Homo sapiens: one gene and its partner. The protein of the gene in region 1 interacts with the protein of each later gene in a pairwise test. Each region holds a gene or a part of one and is shown in the gene's direction. Other genes may lie near its edges.

Region 1 (3,750 bases):
CAGGTGGGTCCCTGACCCCTGTGCCTCCTGACTGGGAGACACCTCCCAGCAGGGGTCGACAGACACCTCATACAGGAGCGCTCCAACTGGCCTCTGGTGGGTGCCCCTCTGGGATGAAGCTTCCAGAGGAAGGAACAGGCAGCTGTTCTGCAGCCTTTGCTAGTGATACCCTGGCAAACAGGGTCTGGCATGGACCTCCAGCAAACTCCAGCAGACCTGCAGCAGAGGGGCCTGTTAGAAGGAAAGCTAACAAACGAAAGGAATAGCATCAACATCAACAAAAAGGACGTCCACACAGAAACCCCATCCAAAGATCACCAACATCAAAAACCAAAGGTAGATAAATCCATGAAGATGAGGAAAAACCAGTGCAAAAAGGCTGAAAATTGCAAAAACCAGAATGTCTCTTCTACTCCAAAGGATCACAACTCGTTGCCAGCAAGGGAACAAAACTGGACAGAGAATGAGTTTGACGCATTGACAGAAGGAGGCTTCAGAAGGTAGGTAATAAACTCCTCTGAGCTAAAGGAGCATGTTCTAACCCAATGAAAGGAAGCTAAGAACCTTGAAAAAAGATTAGAGGAATTGCTATCTAGAATAACCATTTTAGAGAAGAATATAAATGACCTGATGTAGCTGAAAAACACAGCACAAGAACTTCCTGAAGCATACACAAGTATCAATAGCCGAATTGATCAAGTGGAAGAAAGGATATCAGAGATTGAAGATCAACTTAATGAAATAAAGTGTGAAGACAAGATTAGAGAAAAATGAATGAAAAGGAATGAACAAAGCCTCCAAGAAATATGGGACTATGAGAAAGACCAAATCTACATTTGATTGGTGTACCTGAAAGTGACGGGGAGAATGGAACCAAGTTGGAAAACACTCTTCAGGATATTATCTGGGAGAACTTCCCCAACCTAGCAAGAGAGGCCAACGTTCAAACTCAGGAAATACAGAGAACACCACGAAGATATTCCTCGTAGAGAGCAACCCAAGACTCATAATCATCAGATTCACCAAGGTTGAAATGAAGGAAAAAATGTTAAGGGCAGCCAGAGAGAAAGGTCGGGTTACCCACAAAGGGAAGCCCATCAGACTAACAGCACATCTCTCTGCAGAAACCCTACAAGCCAGAAGAGAGTGGGGTCCAATATTCAACATTCTTAAAGAAAAGAATTTTCAACCCAGAATTTTATATCCAGCCAAACTATGCTTCATAAGCAAAGGAGAAATGAAATCCTTTACAGACAAGCAAATGCTGAGAGATTTTGTCACCACCAGGCCTGCCCTACAAGAGCTCCTGAAGGACGTACTACACACGGAAAGGAAAAACCGGCATCAGCCACTACAAAAATGTACCAAATTGTAAAGACCATCAACACTATGAAGAAACTGCATCAACTAATGGGCAAAATAACCAGCTAGCATCATAATGACAGGATCAAATTCACACATAACAATATTAAGCTTAAATGTAAACAGGCTAAATGCCCCAATTAAAAGATGCAGACTGGCAGATTGGCTAAAGGTCAAGACCCAACAGTGTGCTGTATTTAGGAGACCCATCTCACGTGCAGAGACACACATAGACTCAAAATAAAGGCATGGAGGAATATTTACAAGCAAATGGAAAGCAAAAAGAAGCAAGCGTTGCAATCCTAGTCTCTGATAAAACAGACTTTAAACCAACAATGATCAAAAAAGACAAAGAAGGGCATCATTACATAATGGTAAAGGGATCAACACAACAAGAAGAGATAACTATCCTAAACATATATGCACCCAATAAAGGAGCATCCATATTCATAAAGCAAGTTCTTAGAGACCTACAAAGAGACGTAGACTCCCACACAATAATAGTTGGAGACTTTTACACCCCACTGTCAATATTAGACAGATTAACGAGACAGAAAATTAACAAGGATATTCAGGACTTGAACTCAGCTCTGGACCAAGCAGACCTAATAGACATCTACAGAACTCTCAACCCCATACCAACAGAATATACAGTCTTCTCAGCACCACATCACATTTATTCTAAAATTGACCACATAATTGAAAGTAAAACACTCCTCGGCAAACGCAAAAGAACAGAAATCACAACAAACAGTCTCTCAGGCCACAGTGCAATCAAATTAGAACTCAGGAATAAGAAACTCACTCAAAACCGCACAACTGCATGGAAACTGAACAACCTGCTCTTGAATGACTACTGAGTAAATAATGAAATTAAGGCAAAAATAAATAAGTTTTTTGAAACCAATGAGAACAAAGACACAACCTACCAGTATCTCTGGGACACAGCTAAAGCAGCGTTTAGAGGGAAATTTATAGCACTAAATGCCCAAAGGAGAAAGCAGGAAAAATCTAGAATTGACACCCTAACATCACAATTAAAGAACTAGAGAAGTGAGAGCAAACAAATTCAAAAGCCAGCAGAAGACAACAGATAACTAAGATCAGAGCAGAACTGAAGGAGGACACCAAAAAATCCTTCAAAAAATCAATGAATCAAGGAGCTGGTTTTTGAAAAGATCAACAAAATAGCTAGACCACTAGCCAGACTAATAAAGAAGAAAAGACAGGAGAATCAAATAGACACAATAAAAAATTATAAAGCAGATATCACCACTGATCCCACAGAAATACAAACTACCATCAGAGAATATTATAAACACCTCTACACAAATAAACTAGAAAATCTAGAAGAAACAGATAAATTCCTGGACACATACACCCTCCCAAGACTAAATCAGGAAGAAGTCAAATCCCTGAATAGAACAATAACAAGTTCTAAAATTGAGGCAGTAATTAATAGCCTACCAACCAAAAAAAGGCCCAGGACCAGACAGATTCACAGCCTAATTCTACCAGAGGTACAAAGAGGAGCTGGTACCATTCCAAACAATAGAAACAATAGAAAAAGAGGGACTCCTCCCTAACTCATTTTGAGTCCAGCATTATCCTGATACCAAAACCTGCCAGAGACACAACAAAAAAAGAAAATTTCAGGCCAATATCCCTGATGAACATCAATGCGAACATCCTCAATAAAATACTGGCAAACCGAATCCAGCAGCACATCAAAAAGCTTATCCACCACCATCAAGTCGGCTTCATCCCTGGGATGCAAGGCTGGTTCAACATATGCAAATCAATAAACATAATCCATCACATAAACAGAACCAATGACGAAAACCACATGATTATCTCAATAGATGCAGAAAAGGCCTTCAATAAAATTCAACACCCTTTCATGCTAAAAACTCTCAATAAACTAGGTATTGATGGAATGTATCTCAAAATAACAAGACCTATTTATGACACACCCACAACCAATATCATGTTGAATGGACAAAAGCTGGAAGCATTCCCTTTGAAAACTGGCACAAGACAAGAATGCCGTCTCTTACCACTCCTATTCAACATAGTATTGGAAGTTCTGGCCAGGGCAATCAGGCAAGAGAAAGAAATAAATGGTATCCAAATAGGAAGAGAGAGAGTCAAATTATCTCTGTTTGCAGATGACATGATTGTATATTTAGAAAACCTCATCATCTCAGCCCAAAATCTCCTTAAGCTGATAAGCAACTTCAGCAAAGTCTCAGGATACAAAATCAATGTGCAAAAATCACAAGCATTCCTATACACCAAGAACAGACAAAAAGAGAGCCAAATCATGAGTGAACTCCGATTCACAATTGCTTCAAAGAGAATAAAATACCTAGAAATACAACTTACAAG
Region 2 (3,750 bases), on another chromosome or scaffold:
TCACGCCATTGCACTCCAGCTTGGGTGACAAGAGTGAAACTCTATCTTAAAAACAAACAAACAAACAAAATCTCCACCAGATGCTTGGGCCGGGCGTGTGGCTCATGCCTGTAATCCCAACACTTTGGGAGGCTGAGGCTGGCAGATCACCATAGGTCAGGAGTTCAAGACTAGCCTGGCCAACATGGTGAAACCCCATCTCTACTAAAAATACAAAAAAAAAAAAAAAAAAAAAAAGAAAGCCGGGCGCGGTGGCTCATGCCTGTAATCCTGGCACTTTGGGAGGCCAGGGGGATGGATCACCTGAGGTCAGGAGTTTGAGACCAGCCTGGTCAACATGTTGAAGCCATCTCACTAAAAATACAAAACTTAGCTGGGCGTGGTGACATGTACCTGTAATCCCAGCTACTCGGGAGGCTGAGGCAGGAGAATTGCTTGAACCTGGGAGGCAGAGGTTGCAGTGTGCTGAGATCACGCCATTGCACTGCAGCTTGGGTGACAATAGTGAAACTCTGTCTCAAAAACAAAAAACAAAAAACAAAAACTCCACCAGATGCTTGGGCCGGGTGCAGTGGCTCATGCCTGTAATGCCAGCACTTTGGGAGGCTGAGGTGGGCGGATCACCTTAGGTTCGAGACCAGCCTGGCTGACAAGGTGAAACCTCGTCTCTACTAAAAACAAAAGTTAGCTGGGTGTGGTGGCATGCACCTGTAATCCCAGCTACTCAGGAGGCTGAGGCAGGAGAATCGTTTGAACCCGGGAGGCGGAGGTTGCAGTGAGCTGAGATCTTGCGACTGCCCTCTAGCCTGGGCAACAGAGTGAGACTCCGTCTCAAAACAAACAAACAAAAAGTAAATAGCTGGCATTACAACCATTCTTCTTACCTTTTTGTAGGTTGCAGGTTTTATATTTGAGCTCTTCATAATATTTTTCTTAAGGATATATTAATATAATGTATATTTTCCTATTTTTTCCTGCTATGTAAACACTGCTGTTTGGTCAGATGAAGGAGGGAGCCCTGCCCTAGGACAGGGGAGGGGAGGAGGAAGGCGACCTCAACCCAGGACCCCTGTTCACCCTGGGATCAGGCCCTCACCCAGGTAGCTCCTCTGTTTGAAAGCTCTAAGCCCTTCCACTGTCCTCTTCAGGGCTACCCCGCCACACAGCCTCTCCTTGTCTTGTCTTCCCTTTGGCGGGGTCACACCCGCACCTGGGTCACTGCCCCCTTCCTCTGGTCGAGGGTTGGGGGGAGTGTCCCCTCCTCCCTCGGCCGGAGTCACAGTTCCACACGCAGGGGTCCTTCCTGCCCCTCTCACCTGGGGTCACAACCCCCCTCCCTCGGAGGAGGGAGGTCACCGGCCACAGGCGGGGGCCTCAGTTTCCCACGCTACAGGGCTCACACGTGTCTGGCCTGCGACGCGCTCTCCCTTCGCCGGGGTCCCAGTTTCCCGCCCAGGAAACCTCGGTCCCTCCTCCGAGGCCGCCGGGCCCTCCTCCAGAGTCCCGCCAGTCCCCCAGAGTCCAGGCCAGTCCCCGCCGTCACCCGGTGCGAGCCCGCGAGAGGCCTAGTGCAGCTGGCAGCCCCGCCCCGGCACCCGCCTGCTCTTCTCGCGGGTCCGGACCGCGAGCGCGGGGGCCGACGGGTCGCCGCTGCGCCGGGCCGGGATGGCGGCCACCGCGCTGCTGGAGGCCGGCCTGGCGCGGGTGCTCTTCTACCCGACGCTGCTCTACACCCTGTTCCGCGGGAAGGTGCCGGGTCGGGCGCACCGGGACTGGTACCACCGCATCGACCCCACCGTGCTGCTGGGCGCGCTGCCGTTGCGGAGCTTGACGCGCCAGGTGAGCCGGGCCGGGGAGCCCGGGCCCCTGCCCCGTCCCCGCCGCTCCGTCCCTGTCGGGCCGCTGGGGTCTCCACCGTCTTTGCTGAGCCACCTCTTTGCCTCGGCAGCTGGTACAGGACGAGAACGTGCGCGGGGTGATCACCATGAACGAGGAGTACGAGACGAGGTTCCTGTGCAACTCTTCACAGGTGAGGGACCGGGCCGAGGGGCAGGCTCGGGGGCCCGCTCCCCCTCGCCCACCGCCCTGAGCCTGGGACGGCTAGAGAAGTGTGGGGGAGGTCACCATGCACCGGAGCCAGGTGTCTCAAGCTGCTTTGCCTCCGGTCTGTGCCTCTAAATGGCACCTGGAGGTAGGCTAGAAGCTGTGAAAGGCGTTTATTTAAAAGTTCAAGTTGGGCCGGGCGCGGGGACTCACGCCTGTAATCCCAGCACTTTGGGAGGCGGGAGGAGGAGGCGGGCAGATCACTTGAGCCCAGGAGTTCCTGACCAGCCTGGGCAACATGGCGAGGCCCCCGTCCCTACAAAAATACAAAAAGTAGCCGGGAGTGGTGGCGTGCGCCTGTACTCCCAGCTACTTGGGAGGCTAAGGCAGGAGAATCACTTTAGCCCGGGAGGTGGAGGTTGCAGTGAGCCGACATCTCGCCATTGCATTCCAGCCCAGCCTTGGGCGACAGGAGTGAAACAATGTCTCAAAAAAAAAAAAAAAAAAAGTGGAAGTTGACAAAGCCTGATTTCTCCTTTGTGAACAAATGTAATGTATTCTTATTTCGGTAACCAAAATCAGAAACTAAAATTGAAAGGCAACTTTCCCATGCCTTCCTGATTTCATTCATTCTTTCTATACTTTGAGCTCTGAGTATGGGTCAGCATTCCCAGTGTTAGGGATTCCAGATGAAGGCCCTGCCAACTGTAAGACGAAAAGCACCCCCTTAACACTCTCCCCTCCCCAGATTTTTCATAAAACTATCCATTGAAAACTGTAGAGTTCATTTGGCTCTGATTTGGGGGAATTTTTAGTCATATATTAGAAATCATGGTGGAACTCCAAAGTTCTCTCATAACAAAGTTTAGGCCTAAAACATAACTTTCATTAAATGTGACTGGCCTGTTTGTGGAATCTTCCACAATGGTTATTAGAAGATGTTATCTACAATCTGAGCTATTTGATTTTTTTTTAATGTTGCCCTATCTTTATAGCGTTTGGCATCTAATAGCACTAAACAATTATCTTTCTCATTTGTTTTACTGATATAGCATGATGAAGATACTATTATTTCAACCTGAGGATTTTTTTGAAACCTTGAAAATATTTGTGACTTGGCCAGGCGTGGTGGCTCTCACACCTGTAATCCCAGCACTTTGGGAGGCTGAGGTGGGTGGATCACCTGAGGTCAGGAGTTTGAGATCAGCCTGGCCAAAATGGTGAAACCCCGTCTGTACTAAAATCACACAAAAAAATTAGCCGGGCGTGGTGGCAGGCGCCTGTAATCCTAGCTACTTGGGAGGCTGAGGCAGGAGAATCGCTTGAACCCGGGAGGCAGAAGTTGCAGTGGGCCGAGATTGCACCACTGCACGCCAGCCTGGGCGACAGAGTGAGTCTCCGTCTCAAAAAAAAAAAAGAATTACTGATCTTCATTTAGAACCATAAAGTCTCTGATACTCATTATTAAGAGGTTAATAACAAGAGTAGCTGGAGCATATCTGAAGTCTTAAAGCATAAAGTTTGCCCAGTTGCCAGAGACCTTATTTCTATTTCTTTTCTTTTTTTTTTTTTTTTTTTGAGATGGAGTCTCACTCCCTTGCCCAGGCTGGAGTGCAATGGTGCAATCTCAGCTCACTGCAACCTCTGCCTCCCAGTTCAAGTGATTCTCCTGCCTCAGCCTCCCAAGTAGCTGGAATTACAGGTGCC

The links. The genes of interacting proteins can lie anywhere in the genome.
Region 2: the proteins of RGS20 (region 1) and PTPMT1 interact in binary tests that used the Homo sapiens proteins (3 or more experiments, as listed by UniProt).

Annotation. Positions count from the first base shown.
Region 1 is NC_000008.11:53,932,793-53,936,542, forward strand, and holds part of RGS20 (regulator of G-protein signaling 20), read left to right. Parts: intron 1-3,750. UniProt on the Homo sapiens protein: Inhibits signal transduction by increasing the GTPase activity of G protein alpha subunits thereby driving them into their inactive GDP-bound form.
Region 2 is NC_000011.10:47,563,958-47,567,707, forward strand, and holds the start of PTPMT1 (phosphatidylglycerophosphatase and protein-tyrosine phosphatase 1), read left to right. Parts: upstream 1-1,641; 5' UTR 1,642-1,665; coding exon 1,666-1,839; coding exon of another isoform or gene 1,840-1,948; coding exon 1,949-2,029; intron 2,030-3,750. UniProt on the Homo sapiens protein: Lipid phosphatase which dephosphorylates phosphatidylglycerophosphate (PGP) to phosphatidylglycerol (PG).